Linked DNA regions of Homo sapiens: region 1 is linked to region 2. The links come from fine-mapping of genetic effects on gene expression. Tissue or cell type: adrenal gland. Region 2 holds a variant in brackets; the other region holds the start of a gene. All regions are shown on one strand. Distances are from middle to middle.

Region 1 (16,767 bases), 26 kb after region 2:
ACGACAAAGAATTCCCAGCCCAAATGTCAATAGTGCCAAAACTGCAACACTCTAATCTAAAGATCTCAAAGAGTCACAACAAAGACAACTGCTACCCAGACAACATTGTGTAATACTGAACTTCCACCCAAGTACACACAATGACAGGTAGGGTAAGAGCAGGTACACTGTTGGTTGAGGGCTTATGGTCGTTATGAAGTAGGTACAAAGAACCATCCACTCTGCTGTGTCAATACTGGGAGGCTTTTCTGCAGAGGAGGGGATTGGGACAGTTTGGATGGTAGGAAGGAGAGACTGGTGGGCTGCTCACAAGAGGATGCAGAAAGGGCAGGAGGAATATTGTGACCTCCACTCTATGACTCTGCCACATCTGTTTCTCCTAAAGAACCCTGGTAACCTCCTCCTTTGTGTAGAAATGAGCAAGAAAGCAGAGCAAGACATGCAAAGCCCTTTGAGGAACAGCAGGGAAACCAGAAGGACCTTCAGTCACATCCTAGAGGTGCAAGAAACACAACTTCCACTCTCAAAATTAGATTGAATTTCTATTTCAAGTCCCCATTTGGCTGGTAGAAAGACATCTAGCCATAATTAATCAGGGCCTCCCTACCTCTTGCCCTGGGTTGCGTCTAGATTTGTTTTTGGGGTAGAGGAGGCTCAGAAAGTGCCAAGGCCTGGGCAGAGGTCAGTGTCTGGTGTCCCCTGACATCTGCTATGTTGGCCTCACTTCCATCTTCCTGATGGCAGATGCAGCTGCCTAGGCCTCCTGGAAGTCTCTGTGCCTGGCCTCTTTCTCCTCCTCTCAGCTTCTTCCTCCCTCCTCTGGGGCACACGGGAGATGTTGGCAGAGCTTGGTAAACCTCTGCAAGGCTGCGTCACCCCTCTGCCAATTACTCCCTCCCCCACTGCATCTGTGCCTTGGGAGGGGAGGAGCAGGCACTCTCCTGAGCTTGCCTGAAAGCCACACTTATGAAGCTAGTGTGGGACTGCCGCTTGGGCACCACCCACCTCCCTAGCCCCACATCATCATGGCTCATCCACTCTCCTTAGATCCTCTGTCCAGACCCCTGGCCCAGGGCACTTGACCTCATCTTGGTCATGGGGAAATGACTTTTGCATCGTGCTCAGTCTTCAGGATGTCTTGTTAATGCCACAAATTTTATTCCTAGAAGCCTCTGGGACTTCTACTTTTGAAACTCAAAGCCCAGGCTCTTGTAATGCCAAAGTATTGGTTCTTGAAACTCAAAAGCATCTCTGCTTTTCTGCTGGATGAGGCTTCCCCTAAAGGAAGAAGAGCCACTGTCTGGAAAGAACAAAAGGGAGGAAAAAAAACTTTCATCAAGTGAAATATTATCACACTACAGCAGCAAGGCGGAGTACGCGGGCAACCAGGACCGTGGCAGGTGTGGAAGATACTGTCATTGCTTCTCCCTTTGGGCCCCTCTGTCCCCAGGTTTATGACCCATTCTCCAAACCTGGATCAAGAAGTCCCATCTGAAGGGTGTCACAAGCAACCAGTTCTATGAGAGCCAGGGTAGAGAAGCTGCAAGAACACAGCCTCCAGGCAGCCTGGGTCCATGCCCAGACCCCAGCTTTGCCAGCTCGGTGTTCATGGTCAGGTCATTTAACCTCTCTGTTTCAGTTTCCCCATCTGTGAAAAGGGGAAATATAGTACCTTCCTCATGTGGTGACGAGCCTGATCAAATGCAGCAGGCCTTGTACAGTGTGTAGCAGACTGCCTGGCCCTGGTCAGCACTGTATGACGGTTGGCTGCTATTATTGTTGTCATTGGCTTATCCAAGGGGTGAGTGGATTTCCTTGGAATCCCATCACACAGGGCCCTTGAGCAGTTAGTTAACTAGCAGAAGGTCAGGGCACCCATGCCTGGCCTCTGGCATTACTCCTCAGCTGCTTGTCGAAGCTTCAAAGGGACTCTCTTAGTGTCCTTTTATTTCAAGAAACAGAAACTCATCAGGAAAGGAAATTCCTGGGAAAAACAGAACAGGAGGGCCAGCAGTAATCCAGGCCTCCTGGATTACACATTAAGAGTAAGTGGGGACTGGCGCGGTGGCTCACACCAGTGATCCTAGCACTTTGGGAGGCCAAGGCAGGTAGATCACTTAGGCCCAGGATTTTGAGACCAGCCTAGGTAACGTAGCAAGAACCCCATCTCTACAAAAAAAAAAATTAAAAATTAGCCAGGTGTGGTGGTGCATGCCTGTAGTCCCAGCTACTCAGGAGGCTGAGATGGAAGAATCACTTGAGCCCAGCAAGTGGAGGCTTGCTTCTTTCTCCTGCTCCCTCTGCAGTTGGCTTTCCTGCTTCAGTGTGTGCCAGTCCAACATGGCAGCTTCCCTGGGCTCGAGGTTACCTGCTGCAGGGACCTGCTGGGGTCTTCTGACAGCCATTGGCATTGTTTCTGTTGTCAAAGCCTCCATTTGGTTCAGGTGTCTTCACCAACCCCCAGGTGACTCCAGGTGAATCCTGAGAGCCTATGCCCATTTTGAGCGTCCTTGCCAGTGACAGGCATATGACCCAGTTCCGGCAAAGGAGGTATCAAGGAAGTTTACTGGGAGCTTCTGGGAAAGGTTTCGTCGCTGATGAAAAAGAGACCCACGGGAAGATGAGAGAGCATGGAGCCCAAGGGATGACGAGTAATGAGGCTGAGCTTGTGAGAAGGGCCCACCCCCTTAGGAAGTCCCACATGTCCTTGCAGAGAAGGCTGGACTGCATGAGGGGACAACGGGGACCCACTGAATTGCTGACTTTACAATACAGAGAATGGATTAAAGGGGGAGGGTTTGGGAGCAGGACACCAGTTAGGAAGCAGCCAGATGAACTGCAATCATGCTGAGGCTTAGAGGGAAGTTTCTACAAGCTGGAGCACAAGAGGAGATGGGGTGATAGGGAGGTAGAATTGCTAGCTGGCTGTTCTCAGGGGTCTCAAGAACTTGTACCCCAATGCGACGATGTCCTCAGAAGCTTCATTCTGGGCTGTCTACACAGGTCCAGTTACACTGGTAACTCAGATAGAAACACATTTCCAGAATCAACATTTTTCAGCAAACGGGACAAAACTGTTTTATTTAAACTAATGGTCCAACTATCCAATTTTGCTTTGCGCTACGTGAGCACAATTTGTCTGCCACACAGACCTGATTCAGCCTTCAGTGGGGCTGGGCCAGTATATCACCAGTGAAACCTACACGCAAGACACATCCCTTCCCGGTGACTAATGTGCACCGTTTCAGGAAAAGGCCAGGTTGAAAGTGCACATACGTGATTTACTGCTGACTTTGGCAAGAGTCATACAGCAGAGACACTGCTCAGCTCCTCACAGGTTTAGAAATAAGCCCACATTAAGAGTAAGTGGGGGCTGGGCGCGGTGGCTGACACCTGTGATCCTAGCACTTTGGGAGGCCAAGGCAGGTGGATCACTTAAGCCCAGGATTTTGAGACCAGCCTGGGTAACGTAGCAAGACCCCCATCTCTACAAAAAAATTTAAAATTTAAAACTTAGCCAGGTGTGGTGGTGCATGCCTGTAGTCCCAGCTACTCAGGAGGCTGAGATGGAAGAATCACTCGAGTCCAGGAAGTGGAGGCTGCAGTAAGCAGAGATTATGCCATTGCACCACAGCCTGGGTGACAGAGAAAGATCCTGTCTGAAAAAAAAAGTCAGTGGGAAGAGAGAGTGACCTGCTCAGAACCAAGCAAGGGTAAAGAATGACAGATGGCAGAGAACAGAGCAAGCAAGGGAGGATACAGGGACAGATAATAGGAGGATATGCTCCTGGTGGACAATACAGGTGGTTTCCAGCCAACTTTATTATTAACACATTCTCACTAAAAAATAAAATTACCTCCCCAACACACACACACCCCCCCTCAGTTTCTAAGGGTAACCTGTTTGGTTTGATTCCTCCCATAGTCTTTCTGTACATAATCAAATATATGTATGTGTGTCTACATCTTTTTAAAAAGTCATTTGTGAGCCAGGCATGGTGGCTCATGCCTGTAATCCCAGCACTTTGGGAGGCTGAGGCGGGTAGATCACTTGAGGTCAGGAGTTCAAGACCAGCCTGGCCAACATTGTGAAACCCCATCTCTACTAAAAATACAAAAAATTAGCTGGGCGTGGTGGTGTACGCCTGTAATCCCAGCTACTCGAGAGGCTGAGGCAGGAAAATTGCTTGAACCGAGAAGTCAGAGGTTGTAGTGCAACCTCTGCACCACTGCACTCCAGCCTAGGTGACAGACACTCTGTCTCAAAAAAATAAAAAATAAAAAAAGTGGTTTGTGTAGTATCATCATATTTAGTGCCTTTCTCGGTGAATGATATAACTTGGACGTTCTTCCATGTCAGATAGCTCTACCTCATTCTTTCTGGTGACTTCATAGTGTGCCAGCATGAGTCTATGCCACAATTTACTTAGCATAGCTCCTAGTGCTGGGCATTGAGGTTGGTGACCACTTTTCACCGTTACAATTAATCAGCAATGAAAACCCTTGGACGTTCTGTTCCTGAGCACATGTGTGAGTTGTTCTGCATGATGATCTATTTCTATAAGCTGATTTTCCAGCCTCACTTTCATTGATGTGCCTGGAAAGTCAGTAGCATGACAGACTGGGGTCTTGGTCACTAACCAGGGACAGTCGAATATTTTAAAACTGTCGTTATTTACCCATTCAGCCAGAAAGAATAAAAATGTAATGCCACGGGAATTCTCAGAACAGCATCCTCTCCTCTTTGAATTCAGGCTTTCAGAACTAGACAGGCTAATGCTCCCACAACTCATGTTCAGGCCACACTGGGTACTTTGTCACATACTAGTTCACCTGATCCCCGAGTTGGTCCTGGAAAATAGGTATTATTAGCATAGAAATGCTAATAATTTTTTTTTGACACATGAGGAAACTGAGGCTCAGAGAGGACAAGACATCTGCCCAGGGTCACACAACTCACAAATAGCAGAGGATTCAGAAACCAAAGACAAAGGTGATGGAATCCTGCCTTCTTTCTAAATCCGTGATGTAGGCTAGATCATGGTGCCTCTTCAGAAGTTTACAGTGGACAGTTAGCCAAAAAAGCAGGTGAAGTGAACATCTGCCTAGGTGACTGAGTTTGCAGGATGTATTAGTTTCCTCCCGCTGCTGTGACAAATTGACCCAAACTTCATGGCTTAGAACAACACAGTGAACTATCTTCTTACAGTTCTGGAGGTCAGATGTCCAAAACGGATCTGCAAATGCCTTCCCACCTTCAAATCATAAGGCAGACCCAAACTTGCCTTTTTGTGGATGCCAAGAGCTCCTTCTGGATGCTCTGGCTGACACTCCATTCCTTTCCTTTTCTAGCTCCTAGAGGCTGCCCACATTCCTTGGCTACTGACCCTTGTCCAGCAACTGTATCATTCTGATCTCTACTTCTATCACCACATCTCCCTCTCTAACTCTGACCCTCCCGCTTCCCTCTTGTAGGAACCCTTTTGACAACATTGGACCCACCAGGAAAATCAAGGATAACCTCCCCGTCCCAACATCTTTAACTTGATCCCATCTGCAAAGTCCCTTTTGCCACGTAAAGTAACCAGTTCTGGGGATCAGGTTGTGAACATCTTTGGGCAGCCATTATTCTGCCTATCACAGAAGGGGGTTCCTAGCTTAGTGATTTAGAGCAAGGGCCCTGCAAAGACCCCAGATTCAAATACTTTGTCACTTGCTAGCAGATCCAGGTACCTAACTTCTCTGAGTCTTAACAGCCTCATCTGAAAAACTAGAATAATAGAATCTTCCTTCTAGGGCTGTTTTGAAAACCAAAGAACACAATGTATGCAGTGCACGTGAAACACAGGGTTCAATAAATGGTAGGGAAGATTCAGAGAAACTAACCATGTAGAGGGAGAGGGCTGTGGAGGAGAGGAGGATAAGGAGAGGCATGCTTCCTTTGGTAGCTTCTTCAGTTTTGCCTGGGCCTCAGCTTTGCCTGAGAATTTCGTCAGTCTCTCCCCAGATCAGCCAGGGTGAGCCTGCTTAAATGGAACACTCTGAAGATGATATCCTGTGATAAACAAGACCTGCCCAGTTGAGTCTGCAGCAGAGTGGGGCGGGTCTGGGATGACCCTGGCATGGAAAAGTACAGCAGCTCTTTGTCTTCAGATTAGGAGCTGGGACAGCTGTTCTGACATGATCACCCCCCGCCCCCACCCCAGGCCTCTCCAAAGTCCATCTTGCAGAGTCAAATGAAAACCAGATTCCTGGTCTTATCTGAGAGCTACGTGACTGTTTCCTGTCACTCCTTTGGAGCCTGGGAAGGTCCCCACATGCATTGTCTAAACTTTGGGATGAATACGCACAGCTCTTAAATGGGAGCATATTATTATAGGTACCTGCCTACACAAAGGGTCCTCCCTATTCACTAAAATCATGGGTTATTATTTAGGGCTTTCATTCATCCAACAAATGTTTATTCCGCATTTGCAGGTGGCCAGGCAAGGTGAACATTCTCTCAGGGTGGAGAGTATGTGCAGACAGGAGGAATTATGCTATGGGAGGGAGAGCAGAAGCTCTGGAGTGGATCATCTTGGGTCTAGATCCTGATACTTCCCAGCTGTGTTTTCACTGGGCAAAATGACCTCACCTCCTTAAGCCTCAGCCTTCTCTTCTATAAAGTGGGCATAACAAATAACCGCCTCCTAGGTTATGAGGATTAAATGAGATGGTTCAGGGGATGTGGGTGGTAACCCCGCCCCTGGTTCATAGCAAGGATGTGAGGAATAGCAGTTGCTGTCATAGACATGGAGACTGTTTCCCCAAATGCCTTCCCACCCCCAAATCATAAGGCAGACCCAAACTTGCCTTTTTGTGGACGCCAAGGTTCTGTCGAGCTGTTAGGGTGCAAGTTAAGAAGCCAGAATGGCGGGCTGAGGGGAGAAATGCCCGCATGTTACAACTCTGCAGGTGTACACACGTGGACACCATATGTACCCATGAATTCCGCCTTTGGAAGTGAACTTGATTGCAGCCTATTTTCGTCTGGAGGCGGTGGATTCCCGGTAGGAGGCGCCTTCAGTCCTCGGCTCGATCCTGTGACGCCAGCCAGCTGCCTATCGGCTTCTCAGTGTTTGAACTTCAAAGGGCTGGACGCTCACCCAAGAAGGGGACCCCGGCCTGACCTCTCTCGGAATTCAAAAAAATCTAAGGCTCAGAGAGGGAATGGGAGCTGGCTCTTCCCTCTGTGTTTAGCATCCACGTTTTTTGGCGGTCTGGCTGAAACCAGCCCACCCTAGTTCGGGCGCCAGAGCAACGCAGTTCCGAGGGCAGATCTCCAAGGGGCGGAGGCAGAGCCGCGGGTGAGAGGCTTCCGCGCCGACTTCGGGTTTGCACTCCCCGGAGCCAGAACTCCGTGGCGGCTCCGGGCCTCCGTGGATCCGAGCAGAGACTGGCTGCCCGCCTGCCACTCGCAGGCTGGGAAAACGCCAGCCGGTGCCTCGCCGGGAAAGTTCTCGGCAAAGCTGGGGATGAGCCCTCAGCAGGGCAGGCTCCCGGTGCAGCGCGCCCCCATCCATTGCCCGCGCGCAAGAACCCGGAATGGGCCCCACCTGGGCCGGGACTCGGGCGTGCGATCCCGAGGGCGCCCTGGGGACCACGCATCGGGTGGGGACCCTGGCCGAGGGCGTGAGCTGACTCAGTTTTTAAAAACTCGCTTCCTCCTTCCCTACTTGTGCCGGTCACTCACCTCGCTGGGAACCAGCCCAGGGCAGAAGGGGGAGAGGGAGGCGGTGGCCTCCCCAGGAAGGAGGAGAGGTGAGTATCCCGCCAGGTAAAGGCGGGGCGGCTGGCGGAGCTGTGCCTCGGCGTCTGCGCCTGGTGTGGGAGGAAAGCGGGTCTCCCAGCTCCACTTAAACCCCTAAAACCTGGGACTTCTAGCTTGAGACATTCCCCGACCACCACCCGTCACACACACGCGCGTGCGCGCACACACGCATGCACACCGATTCTCTGGGCCCTAGGGAGGAGGGGGGATCAGGGCTCTATTTTCTCCCGACCCCCTCTTATCCAACTCGGCTGGCAAGGGTTGGGGAGAACTTAGGCCCAGCCCCCGGCACACGCTCAGCGCGCTCCAGCGGCATACGCTGGGGAGTGGGTGCCCGCCTCGCTCAGCTGCGATCCCTCGCCTCGGGCCCGGGGGTGGTGCCGAGGGCCGGGAGGGAGGGTCGGCCGGTGGGCGGTGCTTCTCCGGGCTGGAGGCCGCTCCTGGCCGGCACCGCCCTCCGCCTCCCGCGGTCCCTCCCTCCCGCACGCCGGCGCTCCCAGGCCGCGCTTCCTGCGTCCCCAACCCGGTCCCTGAGAGGGCAGTGCGCCCTCTCCACCACTGCGTTCCCTCGGCTAAGAATCCCCCGAACCCCAGCCCCGCGATCGCGGCGCCCACCGAGGAGGCCGCCCGGGTGGGGCGCGGGGGTCGCGAAGCCCGCAGTCCCGGACCGCCCAGCCGAGACGGAGCCGGACCCGCCGCCTCCCGGGTGAGTCTCAGCCGCCGCGCCTTGCGCCCGCTGCTTCCCGCGGCGCGCTGTCGGTTCCCCACAGGGCCGTGTAAGGGGGCCGAGGCCCGTTTGGGTCTCCTGTCCGTCCGTCTGTCCGCCGAGCGCTTCCCGCCTGGGGTCGACCACCGGGAGGACTCCGCACCCCGCACCCTCTGCGGCCGCGCCCCGCCGGCGCGGGACGCTCCCGCCTCCCGGGCACCGCGCCTGGCCAGCTGGCCTCGGCTGGGGAAGGCAGCTGGCCTTGGGGGCCCCCTGTTGGCGGGAACAGGTGCTATCCGCCCGGCGGGCTTCGAACCCTTGGCTTCGCCAGAAGCGCTTTCAGCGCGTGGTTAGGAGCAGAACTTCCCAGTAGGTCCCAGGAAACCACCTTGGCGCTTTGCTCGCGCATCCCTTACTGTATGGAAGTCGGGGCCTTTTAGGGATTTAGATTCGTGTGTGTGTATGTGTGTGTGTCGCTCTACAAGCAAACACGGGGGTAAAGAATCGGGCATGAGCAAAGTGGATTGAAACTCGAGTCCTTCCCTGAGCGCGTCGGTTTCTTCATCTGTGAAACTGACATGACAACGTCCCAGGGTGCGGCGGGGCATTCATGCCCAGCACCCAGCAAGCACTCAGCGGTAAGTTACGTTACCGGGCCTAGGGGAGAGCAGAGTACAAATCAGATCTCAAATCAGCGCACAAACGGGAGGCGCTTGGCCCGGCGCGCCTGGTCTGCATTACAGGATAATGGTCTCTTTCCCAACCAGCGGTGGGGGCGAGAGACCTGGCCCCTCCCCCACGGTTTCCCCAGGGAGCAGCCCGTGGGGTGTCCTGCGCAGCGCTCCGAGGTGCCTGTGACGGTGCATGGGACTGCGGGTCCTTCCCAACAGCAGGGGAGGTCTGGCTGCTGGGAACCCGGGCGCTGCCGGAGTGGGGTGGGCGGGGACGAGGTGGGCGGGGCAGGGACCCGAACCGGGAGGTAAGTCAGCGGGTGGAAGGCTTTCCCCTCTAGGACCGGCCGGCTTCTGGCTTTCCTTTTGAATGGGTTACCCGGAGAACAGCTTGTCTAGGGAACTGTTGGCCCTGGGACCGTGAACAGCTTTCACACCCCGGAAACCTGTCACAAGAGGATCCTGACCTATTGGGACAGAGCCCCTGCCCCTCCAAATATCTCACTCCACCAATTGAGAGGTACCCCCAGACTGGGAGAAAAGGCCAAAGAAAGAGAGAGGAGGCTAGTGGTGAACCTGCTCCTCACGGCTTCGGAGCTGACAGCTCTCTGATGGGGTGTCTGGGGCCTGCCCCAGTGACCCAGAGCCCAGAAGCCTCAGGGAGCCCCCAGCCTAGTGAGGGAGTCAGGGATACTCATGAAAAGTGTTGCAGAATTGGCGATACAGTCAGGCCACACCACTTGCTGGCTGTGTGACCTGACCTCTCTGAGCCTCAGCTTCTTCATCTGTAAAATGGGATGATGATCTCCAAGGGCGAGGTGGGGTATTTATGCCTAGCACATGAAGTATTCTATAGTAAGTTATGTCACAGGGCTTAGACGAGAACAGAAGAAAGGAAATAACTCAGGAGGTCCTGCTAAGAAAAGAGTATTAGAATATTCATCAGGGAACTGGAGTCCCCCCAGGGAACAGGGGAGGAAGGGTGTCTGGGCAGATCGAACAGCACAGGCAAAGGCACAGCGACAGGAGAGTGCCTGGGGTGTGCTGGGCTGGGGAAGGTGCTCAGGCAGTGGAGGGTGTGGAAAAGTAAAGGGAATGGAAGGTCCGGAGTGAGCTGGACTGGACAGGTGGGGGCTTTCTTGGAATCATTCAACATATGTTGGCCGAGCACCTTCTGTGGGCCAGGCGCTGTTCTAGGTGCTCAACAAAGATGAACAACATGGAGAAAGACGTCCCTTTCATTCAAGTTCTCTAAGCAGGGAAGTCGTCTGATCCCATCCATATGTTAAGAAGATAATCCTGGCTGCCTGGAAGTTGGCGAGGATCCTAGAGAAGACTCCTAGGAGAGAGAGGCTGGCCTGTGGGTTGGTGGGGGCAGTGGGAATGAATGGGGGAGCTGGAGGAGAGGCCCATACAGGAAGCAGAGAGTAATGTGTGGCCTTCACTCATGACTGTTGGTCAAGGGTAAGATTCTGGGGTTCTACATGAGGCCCAAACTGCCAGCCTGGTCCCCTGCCAGAGAGAAGTAGTGAGTGAGTGTCTGGGGTATTGGCAGGACCCAAGCCCCTCCAGCTGCGACTCTCCGGCTCGCTGGCTCCAGATGTCACGAGGCCTGGGAGTTTCTCTGTCTGCGTGAGGGATGGGAAAGCTGGAGGCAGAGGCCAGCTGGAGCTTCTGGGGCTCCCGTTTTAATAGGTTGTGTTTCTGGTCAACGTTCCTCCCTCCCTCTGCAGGCCTGGCTGTAAACCCCTCAGGCTTCTTGGGCTGGAAGAGGCCAGAGTGTGAGGAGCTTTAGTGTGGATTCTCTTCCCCCAGCCCCAAATTAAGGTGGGAGTCATGCAAAAGAGAAGCATTGTCTCCCTCGGTGCTGGGAAAGTTTCAGAAGCTCAGGTGTCTTCTGACTTGGGATGTGGTATGGGGGCTGCTGACTTTTGCTTTCACTTTTGTTTCTGCTCTGAAGCTGGGAGGAATCCTCCTCTTGCAGCGAAAGCTGTGAGAATATCCTTCTCCATGCTTCAAGTCTCCCTTTGCTTGGAGGGAAAAGGAAGGTCCTAGAATGTCTCAGGTGGAGGGGACCTTCAGGTCATCAGAGACATCATTCTCATTTGACAAACAAAACTCAGAGAGGGGATGGGACTTACCCAAGGACACACAACAGTTCAGCAGCAGAACTGGGACTGGAACCCAGCCCTCCTGACTCCCTTCTAGGGCCCTTTACTTTAACCCAGGAGACCTGGCCACATTCGGGACCAAGACTGTTTTGGGCCCCAGGTTTCTCAACCTCTCAGTCTTTCAAGCGGCTTCATAGAGTTGAGCTCCTCCCCAGCCTGGACAGGTGGTGCAGCCTCCCCTGCCAATGTTTTATTCTCCCTTCCTCTGGATTGAGCCCTCGCTGCCATGGCCACCCCTCCTGGGAGCTCTTGCTCCTGAGAAAGAAAACAGGCCGTTTGTTTGGAAGAAACAAGCCACCTGTTTGGTTTCCCAATACCAGGCCACACAGCCCTGTCCCTCCCAGACAGCCCCAAGATGCTGACCAGAGATAGCCCTCTGAGGGTCTCTGCTGAGCTCCCCTGACCCTCGACTCCTCCCCTCAGCTCCCGTCTCAAGACTGCTGGTTGGTCCTCACCTTCTGTCTGTGGTGTTTACTTGGGCGGAGCAACCTAAAGTCTCCACATTCTCTCTTGCCCTGGATTTATCAGACTTAGCAGCCCTTAAACCTGAATGCGTAGCTTCAGATCTTAGAATATCGGGGCCAGAGGGATCTTAGCCATCAGAAAATCCACTCTGCTTATTTGACAACTGGGGAGACCAAGACCCAGGGAAGAGGAGATTTGCCTGAGATCACAGCCAGGACCAGAACCCGAGGTTCCAGAGTTTGTCTTGAATGATTTTGAGGATGATTCTTGAAAAACAAAACAGGGCACCCTCCCCCTCCAAGATCCCCTTTCTGTCTGCACTTCACACTACCAGGTGTTTTTGTGGCATCCGTGGTGACATGGTCAGGAGGAGTAAGGGCCAAGGGTCCTGAAAGATGAGGTGTGCACATTGAGGAGTGTGTCTGCGCATTTCCAGGTCCTGTCTGTTCAAACTGGCATTAACACCACGGCATGAGCTAGTGAGTGCATTTATCTGGCACTCCCTTAGCCAGACTTGATAATGTGTCTTTGGATGGCAGGCTTTTAAAGTTGTCTTCGTCCACAGATTACAAAAGAAGTAGGTGCTCCTTGTAAAAACGAGCAGATGACATCGTGAAGGCTGGCGACCACTGTTAATATGGTGGCGTTTTATTCAGGTTTTTGTTTGCTGAGCTGTTTCATGTCCTGGTTTGTTGTTGTTGCTTTTGAAAAAATAGAGACAAGGTCTCTGTGTGTTGCCCAGGTTAGTCTTGAACTCCTGGGCTCAAGTGATCCTCCCACCTCAGCCTCCCAAAGTGCTGGGATTCCAGGCAAGAGCCACTATGCCCAGCCCGTATCCTGGTTTTTCAACTCGTCATTACAGTGCCTGTTATCTTCATGAGATAATGTGAGTGACTTCACGCAGGATCTAACCTGTAGGTCTCACGTGCTTCCACCCCTTGATGGCTAGCAGGTATTCCCTTGGCCAAAACCCTGTGACGCTGTGCAAAGTGCAAAGACGTTTCCAATTCACCACTGTGGGAGTCCAGAGGGCCGTTTTTCTGCATCACCATGGGGTTTGGGAAAGCAATTCTCTCTGAACTCTTAGAAATGGAAGCCACGGGCCATCTGGGTGTGATGCGTGTGACCCAAATTCATACAGAGGGAGGGAGACAGCTTTGTTTCTTCTGACTTTTATGTGTTTATTTTTGCTGTGTTTGTTTTAACCCATCCAAGTGCCGCCACCCCACCATCACTGCCCCTTGCCCCAAATCTCCCTGGGATTAGGCATGGGGTTAGGCAAGTTGCAGGTCTCTAGAAAAATCGGTATTTGGCATGCTCATCTCCAAACCCTGGCTCTTGCAGAGTAGGCGTTTCAATAGCAAAGATGTGCAGAGAATTTGTTTCCTAATCGGTGATTCAGGTAGGACACCCCATTCTGGGAACAGGATGGGGCGGGGTCTCTGTCTCTCTCTACCAGGATCACAGCTTTGTTAATGCCATAAATCATCAGTACTGGAAGTACTCGTATCTTGGGGATTTTCTAAGCTCATGTTCACAGAATGGACAGCCACTTACTAGTGGATTTGAGCATCGTTGAGTGGTTTTCCGCTGGATTTTTAAAAGTGAAGTAGAAGACAGTGGACTAGAAAATAGCATGCATTTCCTGTCACGAGAAATATTCCTTAGTAAAACTTTCAGTTATCTGTTTGTGGATGTGCACTGAGTCACTAGGTAAAAACGTCTCTCCTCCTGCATGGTAAGAACCTTGCGCAATGTAGCTCCGGTTATACTGTGATCCTGGGAAACCTTGGATGGGTCCTAGAAGCAACTCAGGGGTTTGCAGGGACAGAGCTGAGTGGTGGAGGCAGGGCCGACAGGAAGGAAGCTCGGCTTATGCTAAGGATACAAAACATCCACTTTTAAAACTCTGTGACTTTAAAAATAAAACAGAAAGTTGGAAGCCATTGTTCGTCTAGCCTCCTCAATTCCTAGAAGAAACTGAGGCCACAAAACAGAGGCTGGGGCCTTTGCTGCAGGGGAGGTAGCACTCAGGCCTCACATTGAGGAGAATCTGCAGATGTAGACCCTTGACCCCTCCACAAATGAGCGACTCAAAACACACGTTCACGGTGCAGCCTGTGACCCCCATAGGCCTCACTGTTGCGTGCACTAGGAATTCATGTTTATCCTAAAGCCTGTCGCTCTCGTGCCAACAACCCAATTTATATTGCTGAGATGCACAAAGCATTAATTTTTTCAATGCCACATTTCAAACAAAGAAGAGTTAATAACCCTGTTCTGGCATTTCTTTTTTTGTTTTGTTTTGTTTTTTGAGACAGAGTCTCGCTCTGTTGCCAGGCTGGACTGCAGTGGTGCAATCTTGGCTCACAGCAACCTCCACCTCCCAGGTTCAAGCGATTCTCCTACCTCAGCCTCCCTAGTAGCTGGGACTACAGGCATGCGCCACCACACCCAGCTAATTTTTGTATTTTTAGTAGCGATGGGATTTCACCATGTTGGCCAGGATGGTCTCGATCTCTTGACCTCGTGATCCGCCTGCCTCGGCCTAGGCATGAACCACCACACCTAGCCTTCTTCTTTTTTTAATGTCCCCAGAGCTTTACCAATGGAAGCTTCCCAGGCCCATCCCCTGGCCTGAGAGGCCTTTGAGATGATAAGCCCAGGGTCACCAAATCCTGGCAGAACCTGGCAGAATGAGAACTCACCACAGGGAGCAAGTTCTTTTTTTTAAGATCGTGGACTCACATGATGTGCAGTTCTGGATGTCTCCAGGAGGTTTTGCTATTTCCTCAACAGGTAAAATTAGGTGGCTCTAAATCTTGGGCAATTTTATGTCTTTTCCATGTTTTTCTCCTCACATGTGGTCTAGGGAGGGGTGTAGAGAAGCAGGTGGAATTTACTTGCCTTACCTTATCCTACCTTTTCCTGGAACCCACAGGTTGGGCCTGTGCTGGTTAGGGTGTGGGGCATGATTTGTTGATATTTGGTGAGGGAAAATGACTTTATTTTATTTTATTTATTTCTTTTGAGACAGAGTGTCACTCTGTTGCCCAGGCTGGAGTGCAGTGGTGCAATCTTGGCTCACTGCAACCTCTGCCTCCTGGATTCAAGCAATTCTCTTGCCTCAGCCTCCTGAGTAGCTGGGATTACAGGTGCATGCCACCACGCCCGGCCAATTTTTGTATTTTTAATAGAGATAGGGTTTCACCATGTTGGCCAAGCTGGTCTTGAACTCCTGACCTCAAGTGATCCACCTGCCTCAGCCTCTCAAAGTGCTAGGATTACAGGCGTGAGCCACCACACCCAGCAAGAACATGATTTTAAAAAACAAAACAAACACTCAAACTTTCTTAAGTTACCATAAGAGGCCTCACATACAGCTTCCTTAAAACTGCCTGCAATTTGGAGAGAAGCAGTTAGGTACTGGAACTGCCTGTGGGTAATTATTGTTTTCAAACAGTGACAGATGCAAATTCTCTTCTTTTGGGGGAAATTGCCTGTAGCTAAACACCGGCGCCATCACTTTAAACAAATCTCCTGATACATATGGTATGCCAGGCGCTGAGCCCAGGAACGAGGGAGAGTCAGCCCCCGCCCCCCACCCCGATGGAGCTGATCCCCCACGGGAGGCAGCAGGGATTGTACCTTAACAACATGTGAATAAAGATGAGGAAGCACAGCCCGTGAAGGAGGAGGCTTAACCCAAACTTGGAGAGTCAGGAAGGATTTTCAGAAAGAGTGCAGTCTGAGCTGAAATGGGGAGCGGGGAGGGCAGGTGCAGCCGCCACCGCCAAAGGTCTTCCTGGTGGAGGCAACTGCCTGTGCAAAGGCCTCAAGGTGTAAAAGAGCTTCGTTAACACAGGCCAATACTGAGTGTAGAAACGCTGCACTCAGGGCAGATGCTGAAGGCAGAGGTGGAAAAAGTATTTTATATAGTTTCTTCTTAAAAGTCATTTTGGGGGCTGGGCATGGTGGCTCATACCTGTAATCCCAGCACTTTGGGAGGCCAAAGCAGGTGGATTGCTTGAGGTCAGGAGTTCACGACTAGCCTGGCCAACATGGTGAAACCCCATCTCTACTAAAAATAGAAAAATTACCCGGTATGGTGGCAGGTGCCTGTAATCCCAGCTACTCAGGAGGCTGACCACAGGAATCGCTTGAACCTGGAAAGCAGAGGTTGCAGTGAGCCGAGATCGTGCCACTGAACTCCAGCCTGGGCAACAGAGTGAGACTCATCTCAAAAAAACAAAAGTCATTTTTCTCAAAAAATTAAAATCGAATAACCATAGGATCCAGCAGTTTCACTTCTGGGTGCATACTTGTCTTAGTCCATTTGTGTTGCTGTAAAGAAATACCTGAGATTGGGTAATTTATAAAGAAAAGAGATTTATTGGCCGGGCGCAGTGGCTCACGCCGGTAATCCCAGCACTTTGGGAAACCGAGGCAGGCAGATCACGAGATCGAGACCATCCTGGCCAACATGGTGAAACCCAGTCTTTACTAAAAATACAAAAATTAGCCAGGCATGGTGGCGGGCACCTGTAGTCCCAGCTACTCAGGAGGCTGAGGCAGAAGAATGGCTTGAACCCGGGAGGCGGAGGTTGCAGTGAGCCGAGATGGAGCCACTGCACTCCAGCCTAGCGACAGAGCAAGACTCCATCTCAAAAAAAGAGAGAAAGAGGTTTATTTAGCCCATGGCATCTCAGATGCATCAGCATCTGCTTCTAGTGAGGGCCTCGGGCAGAAGGACAGCAGGCGTCATGTGGTGAGAGAGAAGAGGAGAGAAGGAGTGGGGAGCAGACTCTTTAACAACCAGATCTTTGGGCACCAAGCCATTCAAGAGGGATCCACTCCCAACAACCAAACACCCACTAGGCCCCACCTCCAACATTGGGGATCAAATTTCTCTTCTTTTTTTGAGACAGTCTTACTCTGTTGCCC
Region 2 (11,680 bases):
TTGTTGGAGGTGAGGTCTGGTGGGAAGTGATTGGATCATGGAGGCCAATTTCTTTTTCTTTTTCTTTTTTTTTTTTTTTTTTTGAGACGGAGTCTCGCTCTGTTGCCCAGACTGGAGTGCAGTGGCATGATCTCGGCTCACTGCAAGCTCCGCATGGAGGCCGATTTCTAATGAGTGGTTTAGCACCATCCTCTTGGTGCTAGCCTTGTGACAGTGAGTGAGTTCTCACGAGATCTGGTTGTTGTAAATGCTGGCATCTTCTTCCTACTTTCTCCTTCTTGCTCCTGCTTTTACCATGTAATGCACAATACATGGTAAAAGCAGGAGCAAGAGAGAGAAAGTAGGAAGAAGGTATCTTCTTTTGCCTTCCACCATGATTGGAAGCTTCTTGAGGCCTCCCTAGAAGGGGATGCTGGCACCATGCTTCCTGTATAGCCTGCAGAACCATGAGCCAATTAGACTTCTTTTCTTATAAGTTACCCAGTGTCAGGGATTTCTTTATAGCAATGCAAGAATGGCCTAATACAGCCAGTGACCAGTGACTGAAACCCCACTCAAAGAATGGTTTGCAAATACAGTAAATGGGAATGAAGCGGCATACGTAAAGAACACTCAAGGTCAACAGCTGGCTTTGGACACAGCTGGCGCCAGGGTGTCCGATGTTGCTTTCAAGACACTCAGCCTTCTTCACCTCTTGGGTTTGCTATCGTTTATACCAGTTAATTCTCAGACAGATTGTCCCCATTTGTTGGCAAAATGGTCACAAGACAAACACTGTCTCAGCCAGCAACCCCTGCACAAGAGAGACCCTCTTGCCAGGCGGTTCTAGCAAAGTCTCAGGGTGGAATCCCATTGGCTTGGATAGGATTGCAAACTCACCAAGGGTGGAGGCAGCCCACCCAGGCTTATGGCCTGAGGACACAATGCATGCACGGATTTTCCGCTCTTAAGAGGTGAGAGAACAGCAGCCCAAGAGCACCCTGCGGCTCTTAGGACGTGCGAAGCCAGTGGATCCTCTAAAGTGGCCCGGCAGGGGCCTCCTCTTTCCCAACACAGGCTTCCTCTCCCCTGCAGGTGGGGCTGGGCAGGCAGACTCCAGGGGAGAGGAGCCCCCTGATATTCAGACAGGAGAAAAAACTTAAGACCAAGCACCCAGCAGCTCACATAAGTGCCAGAAAGAGAACTGAGAATTCAGGGACATCCAACCTTGAGCTGAGGACTGATAAGCACCAATACTGATTGGACCATCACACTGTCTTTTACGCCAGCATTTCTCAGTGAGCACTACTGACATTCTGGGCCAGTTTTTGTTTTGTTTTGTTTTAATTTTTGTAGAGACAGGATCTCTCTTTGTTGCCCAGATTGGTCTCGAACTCCTGCGCTCAGGCAATCCTCCCACCTTGGCCTCCCAAAGTGCTGGGATTACAGGCATGAGCCACCGCACCAAGCCCAGATCATTCTTATAGGATGTTTAGCAGTATCCCTGGCCTCTACTCACTAGATGCCAGTAACAACATCTGTCTACCTAGTCAGAACAACTCAAAATTTCTCCAGACATTGCCAAATGTCCCTGGGGGAACAAAATCATCCCTGATTGAGAATCACAGCTGTATGTGTTTTTGCTCATTTAGTCTCCACAACAATCTCGGGTAAGCATTGTTTTCCCCATTGGTCAGATGGGAAACTGAGGCACGGAGTGTTCCATAGATTTCCCAGTGTCCCACCTTAGTGAGTGGCAGCTAGGACCTCAGCCTCAGCAGACTGGCTCTCTGTGGAGTCTGGGCTCGAACCCACTGGGCCATTACAGCCTTGGCCCTAAAGCTGGCTGGTCACACCCAGCTGTTTACAGTAAAATTTCCTGAAGCCAGATGTCCCCAAGGCGAAAAAGACCTCCTCATTATTAAGTACTGCACGGTTGGAAGCTGGATCCACCCCCTCTGCCTGGAAGAATATTGCTCTGTAAATTATAGGCTTAAAGGGTAAAGACAGCCCCATCAGCCCCGTGAGCTCCTGACTTAAAACAAGGTAATAATTTAGGGACTTAGAAAGGTCTGGTTCGGTGAGTACTTATAATAGCTAATCTTGCACCACACCTGCATCATCACCACCTTTTTTAAATTTTTAAATTTTATTTATTTTTATTTATTTATTTTCTTGAGACAGAGTCTTGTTCTGGCGCCCAGGCTGGAGTGCAGTGGTGCAATCTCGGCTCACTGCAACCTCCGCCTCCCAGGTTCAAGCAATTCTCCAGTCTCAGCCTTCCAAGTAGCTGTGACTACAAACACGCGACACCACGCCCGGCTAGTTTTTGTATTTTTAGTAGAGACGGGGTTTCACCATATTGATCAGGCTCGTCTTGAACTCCTGACCTCAGGTGATCTACCCACCTCAGCCTCCCAAAGTGCTGGGATTACAGGCCATCATTTTTTAAAAATAGACAATAGGAAACAACCAGGACATTTTGGAAACTTGCCCACGTCCAAATTGGGCAAGTGATTCAGGCCCGGCCACTAATACAGCACATTAGCGGCGGTGCCTGGCAGCAGCTGGGTGTGCCAGCCTTCCTCCCCTTCTAACCAAGGTTGGAGCTGAAAGACCTGGTGGGGCTGACTGTCTGTCACCCAGGCTCTGCCACATACACCAGGCTGTGTGACGTGGGGCCAACTCCTTACCCTGTCTGAGCCTCGGTAGAGTCGGAGCGGATGTTCTCTGAGGTCTTTTCCCGGCTCTGAAGTGGTAGGTTGGGTGAGGAATGGAGGTGTGGGCTGGGTGGACAAACCAGGAGGGGTCCCTGTTCTTCCATGTCCCACCTCAAGTCCTAGATAAGGAAGAAAAAGAATGGACACCCTCCTATCACCATGACGCCACATGGCCGTCGACAGCCACCACCACTCCACACACTCACAGGGACCCGCCTGCCTGCGCCCCAGGCGCGGCCCGGGACCTCCCAGTGGGGGTCCGCCTCGAGCCTTGTGGTTTGGATTTCATGGGAAATTCCTGGGTGGGAACCAATCAGGATGGAGAGGGGAAAGCATCTCTGCTGAGACCTCCCGATTGATTGGCTGGCCTCAGGGAACTGCTCCGCCCCCACTCCGTGAAGTTCTTGGAGGTGGGGGTGCTGCTGATCTTAGTGCCCTTAGGATCCTGCTGCCCCCACCTCACCCCCAACCCCGCCTTCAGGGAAGTCTCAGGATCCTGGCTGGACCAATCCAGCCCTGCAGCCCTGGCCCATGATGAAAGGCCCGGGAGTAGACTCCAAACCTGAGAGGTGAAAATCAGAACCCTTTCCGACAGGGCTC[A/C]GAATTGCAGGTGGCGGTGAGCTGCCGCTTTTTTTTGGATCTTAAGCTGTACGACGAGTCCCAGAGCTGCAGGCTGCCCCATCCCACCCACAAGGAGATGCCTAGAGAACGGGGCCCAGCCAGAGTCGGATGCCTAGATGCGGGAGGGGGGCAAGGACAACTGATCTATTCTCAGATCCAGTCGTCTCCAAGGCCACGTCCACCCCTGCTTTCTGAGGTTTGGTTGTGATGCACTAAGCACCACCACCCTACCATTCCCATTTCTCTGTGTCTTAGTTTGCTAGGGCTGCCATAATCAAGAGCCACAGGCCACGGTGCTTGCACAACAGACATGGACCCGCCTATGGTCCTGGAGGCTGGAAATCCAACCTCAGGGTGCCAGCAGGGTTGGCTTCTTCTGAGGCCCCTCTCCTTGGCTTGCAAACGGCCATATTCTCCTTGTGGTCCATCCACGGTTGCCTCTCTATGTATGTGTGTGCCCAAATCGCCTCTTCTTATAAGGCAGTAGTCATGTTGGATTAGGGCCCACCCATCTGACCTCATTTGAACTTAATTACCTCTTTAAAGATCTGATCTCCAAATACACCCTTAGGTACTCCACATCTGAATTTTGAGGATATGCAATTCAGCACGTAAGAGTCTCACACACTACCCCCATCACCAGCTAAAGACAACTAGAATTGGATTCCACATGCTTGACTGGAGAAGATTCCCAGGTAAATGACCTACTGTCCACTGGCCTTGACACTGAGGTGACTCCCACCCTTTCTCCCAGCAACTACATACCACACACATGCACACACACAACTCTCGCCTGCATTTTAAGGACTCTATCTGCATTACACAGAACAACTTGGAAGCATGAAAGAATCCTAAATTCTTCTGTTTTTTTAATTGACCCAGTCTTGCTGCTAGAGATGAGTAACAAGTGCCCCCATTTTTCCCGGAAAAAGACAAGGAGTTACTATTATTCTTTATTATTTTCTCTTCTTTTCTCCATTTCTCCCTGTTCTTCACTTCCTACTTAGCTCTTTAGAAATGCAGTTATAGCCTTTTACCTCCTCTTCCCCACACACTCCTTACAGGGCAAGTTCACCTAATCATGTGCTTAGAAGCTCCAAAGCAAAACTCTCACCCACCAGGAGGTTTCCTCGATAGATAACAGTTGATTGATGACCCAAAGTATGCCCATGAAGATGCCAACTCGAGTCCCAGTAAATAAGCCATCAAGGTAGCATGTGAAACCCCCCTGCTCACTTCCACCCCTGTGTAGGCCCCTTTTAAAAACACTCCCCTTCTGCTCCAAAGGCAAGGTGGAACCCTTAAGGCAGGAAGCCTGTACTTCTTTCCCTATGTTAGCTTTGGAATAAAAAGTCACTTTCTTTATACCAGACCTAGCTTGTTAATTAGACTCTGCAAGTGGCGAGGAACTGAATCTGCATTTTGGTTACAATGTCGTCCCCTTGAGCCTGTGAGAGTTGCAGAGTCAGAAGCCAGGCTGCTTTTGTGGGCAAGTTATGGCTCTGTGTCTCCTCACTGCCATGCCACCATCTGGACACCCCAGGACCATCGCCCCTCTTTTGGTTTCTTCACAGGGTTTCCACATGGCTCTTTTCTGGCCAGGTTCCTCTCCAGGACAACTCCGGTTCTAGCTCAGGATAGAGATCAACCCAGCGCCAAGAGGATGGAGCCAACACCACCCTGACAGCACAGAGCCCTGGTACACTTGCTGCAAGATGCTCTTCCAGGAGCCTCTCAGAGATAGATGGGCATGCAACTGGCATCCCCAAACAACTGGAGCAAGTCTTATCAAAGTTGCTTCCATCATTTATTCACTCAACAAACACTTGCTGGGTGTGTGTGCCTTATGCCAGCACTATGTGAAATAGATCTACTGACAAAACAGTCTCTGGCCTGAAATAATGCACACATACATATATATCATGTCAGCAGGTGCTGTGAAGAAAAGAAACACAAAGCAAGAGTGAAAGACTCCAGGAGACACGTGTTAGGTGGGCAGGTTCATTTGGTTTTGTGGTCACTTAACCCAACAAACTCCAGCATCGAGGTCACCAGAGGCTTCAGACTGGCTTGTTAAAAACGGCAACTTTGCCGACACCCTCTTGGTGACACAAGAGTGAAGGCCCTGGGGTGGAGTCCTCACTCACAGGAAAGCCAGTCCATGTCACTGACATCAGTCTCCAAACCCAAGCAGAAAGTTCCTCTATGGCTGGGTTCCCCAAGACCACCCTGACTATTCCAACCACATCCACAACCAGCTCTACTATTATTGGCATAATAGCTGCCTATTTTAAATCGGGCCAGACCTGACATCACTGCCTGTGTCTGTGTAACCACAGGCCTAAGACGCTGGCTCTGTTTTCTAATACATAGATGTGGGTACGGATATGTGTGCCTCTATGTGCCAAGTATGCACATAAATATACAAATAAATATTCCTGCAAATGCTCACCTGCATGTCCCCCAAATCAGGTCACACTCCATGAGGGACATAAGTGCCACAGTTGGGAACCACTGCTTTATGGCACCCAACAGATTCCTCATGCAGCATCGGCCTGCAGTCTCCTGTGGCTGTGAGCTCACTGTACCATGAGTCTGCCTGTGCCCTTCTTAGTTCCAGTTGCTCATGGGGACTTTCTATCACTCTGCCTCCTGGTCCCTCTTCCACGTTGACCCTCTGTTATTTGTTTTGTTTTGGGGAGACAGAGTCTTGCTCTGTCACCCAGGCTGAAGTGCAGTGGCACGATCTTGGCTCACTGCAACCTCTGCCTCCTGGGTTCAAGTGATTCTCATGCCTCAGCCCCCTGAGTAGCTGGGATGACAGGCATGAGCCACCACACCCGGCTAATTTTTGTATTTTTAGTAGAGACAGGGTTTCGCCATGTTGGCCAGACTGGGCTCGAACTCCTGACTTCAGGTGATCTGCCCGCCTCGGCCTCCCAAAGTGCTGGGATTACAGGCGTGAGCCACCGCGCCTGGCCTGTTATTTTTTTTAAGCAGCATAAATGCCTCCCTCCCAAAACATCTCCTTCCCCCAACCCCATTACAGACCCTCAAGCCTTTTCCATGCCCCTTGTCCTTCTTCCATGGTCTCCCCTTCCATCTCTTCCTTCTCTGGACAATCCTCTCATAAATACATCCCTGAATAAGGACACCGTGCTCCCACATAGGCCCAAGCAGTGGAATCGTAATGAAGGGCCCAATTCCCAAGGGTCAGGCCCTGTGCCCTTTACATGAGATCTAATTGAGTCCTTGCTGTAATCCTGGCAGACAGGTACTCTTATCCCCACTTTACAGAGGCAGGAAAAAGTTAAGACACTGGCCCCGGGTCACATAACTAGTAGTATCAAAAGTAGGGATTCGAACCCAGATGTTTTTAACTGCTATCCTCCCTTAACCTGGACTTTATGCTCCTAGTAATACGATCGAATATTGTATCAGCTTTTAAAATAATCTACATCCCACAGTTGCCTCATTTATCTTGTGGGCAGCTGAATGGGTGGTGTTCAAGTCAAGCTGCTCACGAGAGTCACTGGAGTACTCTTGTTAAAAGTTCCGATTTCTAGGTCCTTCTCCAAAGCCAATAATTTAGGGTTTTGAGATAGGGCCTAGGGAATCTACACGCTAAAGTTAAAATGCTTATTTCCAGGCCTCGGGATTTCTGATTCACTAGGTGTGGGGTGAGTCTGGAGCCTACGTAGTTTTTAAACTTCCTTTGGTGATTCTGTGGCATGACCAGGGGCCTGGGACCAACCGCCCTGGTATATATGGCTCCACTATAGGCAGCGCCTGGGCCATTATAGCTCGCAGTCCCAGAACTCGCCACTAGATGGCAGGACAATACGCCCCTCACCAGCCTAGCCCAGCTCAGCTCAAGAAGGACCAAAGCAGCCTAGGCCACTCAGAGATCCAGGCCCAGTAGACAAAGTTTCAGGTGGGCAGGGCCCCCCACCATCCCTGCCAGCTGTCTGCAATCCCAAAAGGTGGCTTTTGGGGGGGAAATGGCTTTTGTTTTCTTTCCTCCACAGGATGCCAGAAACATCAGTGGGGTCGGCAAAATTTGAAAGCTGGCCTCAGGACAAATAAAACCTGTTAAGCCACCCAGATTCCCTTCCAGCCAGGAGGCCCAGATCCTGAGCCCAGCACGCTGTGAGGACGATAGACCACCCAGCAGGAGATGAGTTGAGGAATGGCCTGATGCCAGGCAGGAGGTCTTCCTCTGTGCGTGCAGCTCCAACGTGAAACGGCAGCTTTTTCCCTTCCTCTGAGGGGTGGCAGGCAGGTGGCCTCCTGGAGTAAAACCACAGGACCACAGGACCACGTGGGCAGCCCCAGGGAGTCAGACACACACGTGGGAACCTCGAAGCAAGACCCTGAACATCACTTTGTCCAGCCGCCTGCCTCCTCTTCATGTTCCTACACGATTAATGAGCCTCCCTCCTGGCCCCTGGGCATATGGGGAGCGCCTCCTCCTCTGGGTGCCAGGACCCCCCTGCCAGGGACAATCAGGCAGCCAGGTGTGGCCTGTGAGAAAGGGGAGGCCCTTGGGTCACATGAAAACTGATTCAAGGAAGGACTCCATGGTCACCAGAATGATGGGTCCCCAGAGGCCCACACTCTGGTTCCTAGAACCCGTGACTGTGATACTTTACATGGCAGAGGGAGCTAAGGTTGCAGGTGAGATGAGTGCTGCTCATCAGTTGACCTAAAAATAGGAAGAATATCTAGATTAGATTATCCAGGGGGCCCTATGTAGCCACAGGGATCCTTAACGCTGGGTGAAGGAGGAGAAAGAAGTGGGTCAGAGGTAAGTGTGGCTACTGAAAAGGTCAGAACGGTGCAACATGAGAAAGACTCAACTTCCATTCCTGGCTGTGGAGATGGAGGAAGGCGCCACAGACCAAGGAGTGCCGGCAGCCTCTCACTGCTGGAAAGGACAAGGGAACGGATTCTCCCTAGAGCCTCCTGAAAGGGACACAGCCCTGCTGACACCTTGATTTTAGCCCAGTGAGTCCCATGTCATATTTCTGGCCACTGAACCGTGCAAGAATAAGCCACCAAGTTTGTGGCAATCTCCTACAGCAGCCACGGGAAACTCACACACTGGGCAAGGTGGCTCATCAAGGTAGGTAACATTTGATCCTCAGGGACGAGGCTGGGTGAGATAGAGCAACGTGTGGGACTCACACTGCTGGTGTTAAAAGATAAATGGTGGCACATTAAAAAGTTAAAGAGTTTATTTGAGCAAACAGCAATTCATGAACTGGGCAGCACCAAATCGAAGGTGGTTCAGGGCTCCTCCAGAGGAGTTTGAAGGAAGGGCTTTGATAGAGTAAAGAGGAAAATCAGATAAATTAAATAAGGAATGTGGAAAATAAAGAAATTATTTGATTGGTTAAGGTTTGGGCAGTTGCCTTATTTAGATGATCCTGGTGGAAAGTTCCTGATCATGTAATTAATGCTTAGCTGGTCTTTTATGATTGGCTAAGGTTAAGCTTCACCTTGTTTATATAGAATCCCAGGGCATGGGAGCCACCTCAGCCTAATGGCCTCCCATTTTATTTTAACACTAGGTAAGAGAAACAGCTCACATTGGGCCAGACATGGCAGTTCATCCTTGTAATCCCAGCACTTTGGGAGGCCAAGGCAGGAGGATCACTTGAGGCTAGGAATTCAAGATCCAATAATAAAATTTTTTAAAAGTTGGCATCAAACTTGGTTCTAATGCCCATGATCTCAAGGTGTTGTGCCCCCAACAGACCAGGCAGCTTCTAAATGGCTCCCAATGACCCCACCTTTTGTGAAGTCCCCTCTCCTTGGTCATGTCTTGCTTCTAAGAATAGAATCCAGTAAAAATGATGGGCTGTCACTCCTGAGATTAGGTTATGAAAGACTGTGACCTCCATCTTGCTTGTGTATGTGTGGGCGTGCTCGCTCTCTGTCTCTCTCTCTGTGTGTGTGTGTGTGTGTGTGTGTGTCTCCTTATTTGCTTGCATTGATAAGGCCAGCTGCCAAGTTGTAAGCCATCCCATAAAGAGACCCATTTGACCAGGAACTAAAGTGGTCTCTGGCCAACAGCCTGCAAGGAGCTGAGTTCTACCAACAACCACGTGGGTAAGCCTGGAAGCAGGTCCCTCCCCAGTTGACCCTCGGGATAATGCAGCCTGTTAGGCATCTTGACTGCAGCCTGTGCCAGACCTTGAACCAGGAGCACCAGCTTTCATCCTGACTCACAGAACCTATGAAATAATACATACTGTTTTTCACAGAACCACTACGTTTTGGCATAATTTGTAACATGGGAATAGATAACTAATATGCCAAGGGAACAACAATTTGCAGAAACATTGCCCTTCCTCCCCCAGAGTGTGCAGTTGGCTCTTAAGAGTGTGTTGTGTTGAAAACCAGAGTAGGGGCCACTCCCAGGCAACTGATTCCAGACAACTAGTAAGTTAATGAGATGAATAATAGTGACAACATTGATAATAGTAATAGTTAACCTTGTGTAGTGCTTACTAGGTGACAGGCATTATTCTAAGTTCATTAAATATAATGAAATGTATTCGGTCCTCACAGCAACCCTACAAGGCAGGTGTTGCTATTTTCACTCTTTTACAGATGAAGAAACTGAGGCACAGAAGGGTTAAGCTGTATATAATAAAACAAATCGTTTTGGTTTGGTTTTTCTAGAAACAAGGTCTTACTATGTTGCCCAGGCTAGATTTGAACTCCTGGGCTCAAGCAATCCTGCCGCCTCAGCCTCCCGAGTAGCTAGGACTATAGGCGTGTGCCACTGTGCCCCGCAAATGTGAGAGTTTTGTTGGGTAGAATGCAAAGGTGGCATGAATTTGTTCAAGATAAAATGCAATATCTCAAAGCAAGTCTGTGCCTGCCAGGGTGCAGCCCCAGCTAAGCACATCCCTGCTCTCAACTGCATCTCCCAAGAGCACCTGTCCCCTCTCTTGTCCTTGCTTTGGTCTGGGCAGTGACCAGACTGAGAAACAGCAGCTGGTTGGCTGCTGGGGCCTCCAGCCTGACTGAGCAGGTGTCTGCACGAAGCCGTTGCCCAGGATGGTGACCCCCGGCCCTCACAGCACAGCACCCAGACACAGACACTCCGGGCCAACATTTGGGTTAAGAGGGAGATGTGAACATTTTTCCAACAACACAAGTTCTATTAACTCTGGAATCAGTTTTTACATTTTCCCATCTAAAATCTTAGATGAGTTACATAAGTGAAAACTTACTCATGTTGTGATAGTACTTTTTTTTTTTTTTCAAGACAGAGTCTTGCTCTGTCACCCAGGCTGGAGAGCAGTGATGAGATTTCGCTCACTGCAACCTCTGCCTCCCGGGTTCAAGCGATTCTCCTGCCTCAGCCTCCTGAGTAACTGGGATTACAGGCACATGCCACCACGTCCAGCTAATTTTTGTATTTTTAGTAGCGACAGGGTTTCACCATGTTGGCCAGGCTGGTTTCAAACTCCTGACCTCAGATGATCCACTGCTTTGGCCTCCCAAAGTGCTGAGATTACAGGTGTAAGCCACTGCACCCAGGTTACTTTCTACAATTATATGAGTTGAATAGATATTTGTGGGCTAAGTTGGAAAACCACCTTGGTTTTGATAACACTGTCACTATAAGAAGAAAAAAAAAATACACACACACACACACACACACACACACACACACACACACACACACACAATTTGTAGAGATGGGGTCTTTCTATGCCCAGGCTGGTCTCAAACTCCTGGCCTCAAGCTATCCTCCCCTCTCGGCCTCCCAAAGTGTGAGGTTACAGGTGTGACCAGCCACACCAGGCCAAGGAAATATATTTTAATTCCCAGGCACCCACCTATCAAGAAACTTTTGAAATGTAACCAGCTCCGGTGTGGACTGGCCAGAACCCACAAAACAACAATCAGGGCATTCGTGTTCATTGTCAATTGAAATGCCATTGGGTAAATAAGGCCAGAATAACTTTTTCTCCCCCAGGCAGCCCTGCTATTAAAGAATCTCCATTTGTCTGTAGAACTGCATACCTGGGAGGAGAGAAATAATTTTTAACACAAGGGGCAAGGACTAGTTTTTTCCTCCAGGAATGAAAGATACTACTAATTTCATAGGAAAATGAGAACATCAAGAAATAAAACTGGGGTCCTTCTAAAGCGAACAGGGCAATTTTAAAGATTCTTAGACTCATACAAGAGACCTTGCATCAAGCTCCCCCTGCAGAATGGTCACGAGGTGCCTGAGATGTTTATTCTTTCAGCCCTCAGGTGACTAGCAGGTGATCTCATGTGACCAGCAGGTCACTTCTGGTCAGGACCAGCCTTATCTGTTGACCTCAGGGTGC

The links.
Region 1: TMEM51-AS1 starts here. The variant in region 2 is fine-mapped to the expression of TMEM51-AS1 in adrenal gland (GTEx, PIP 0.93).

What each region holds. Positions count from the first base shown.
Region 1 is chr1:15,145,439-15,162,205 of GRCh38, forward strand. It overlaps TMEM51-AS1 (TMEM51 antisense RNA 1), which reads right to left and starts at 7,026. Exons shown (of 5, transcript NR_027136.1): 1 at 6,853-7,026. TMEM51 (transmembrane protein 51) reads left to right here and starts at 8,309. Exons shown (of 4, transcript NM_001136218.2): 1 at 8,309-8,516. RefSeq lists silencers at 8,132-8,401, 8,462-8,511, 8,602-8,781 and enhancers at 8,491-9,152, 8,932-9,021, 9,153-9,814.
Region 2 is chr1:15,121,556-15,133,235 of GRCh38, forward strand. TMEM51-AS1 (TMEM51 antisense RNA 1) reads right to left here. Exons shown (of 5, transcript NR_027136.1): 2 at 2,673-2,818. Among named protein-coding and RNA genes, the nearest start is that of TMEM51-AS1, 25 kb to the right of the region's middle. The variant A/C (reference allele first, on the strand shown) is at 3,300.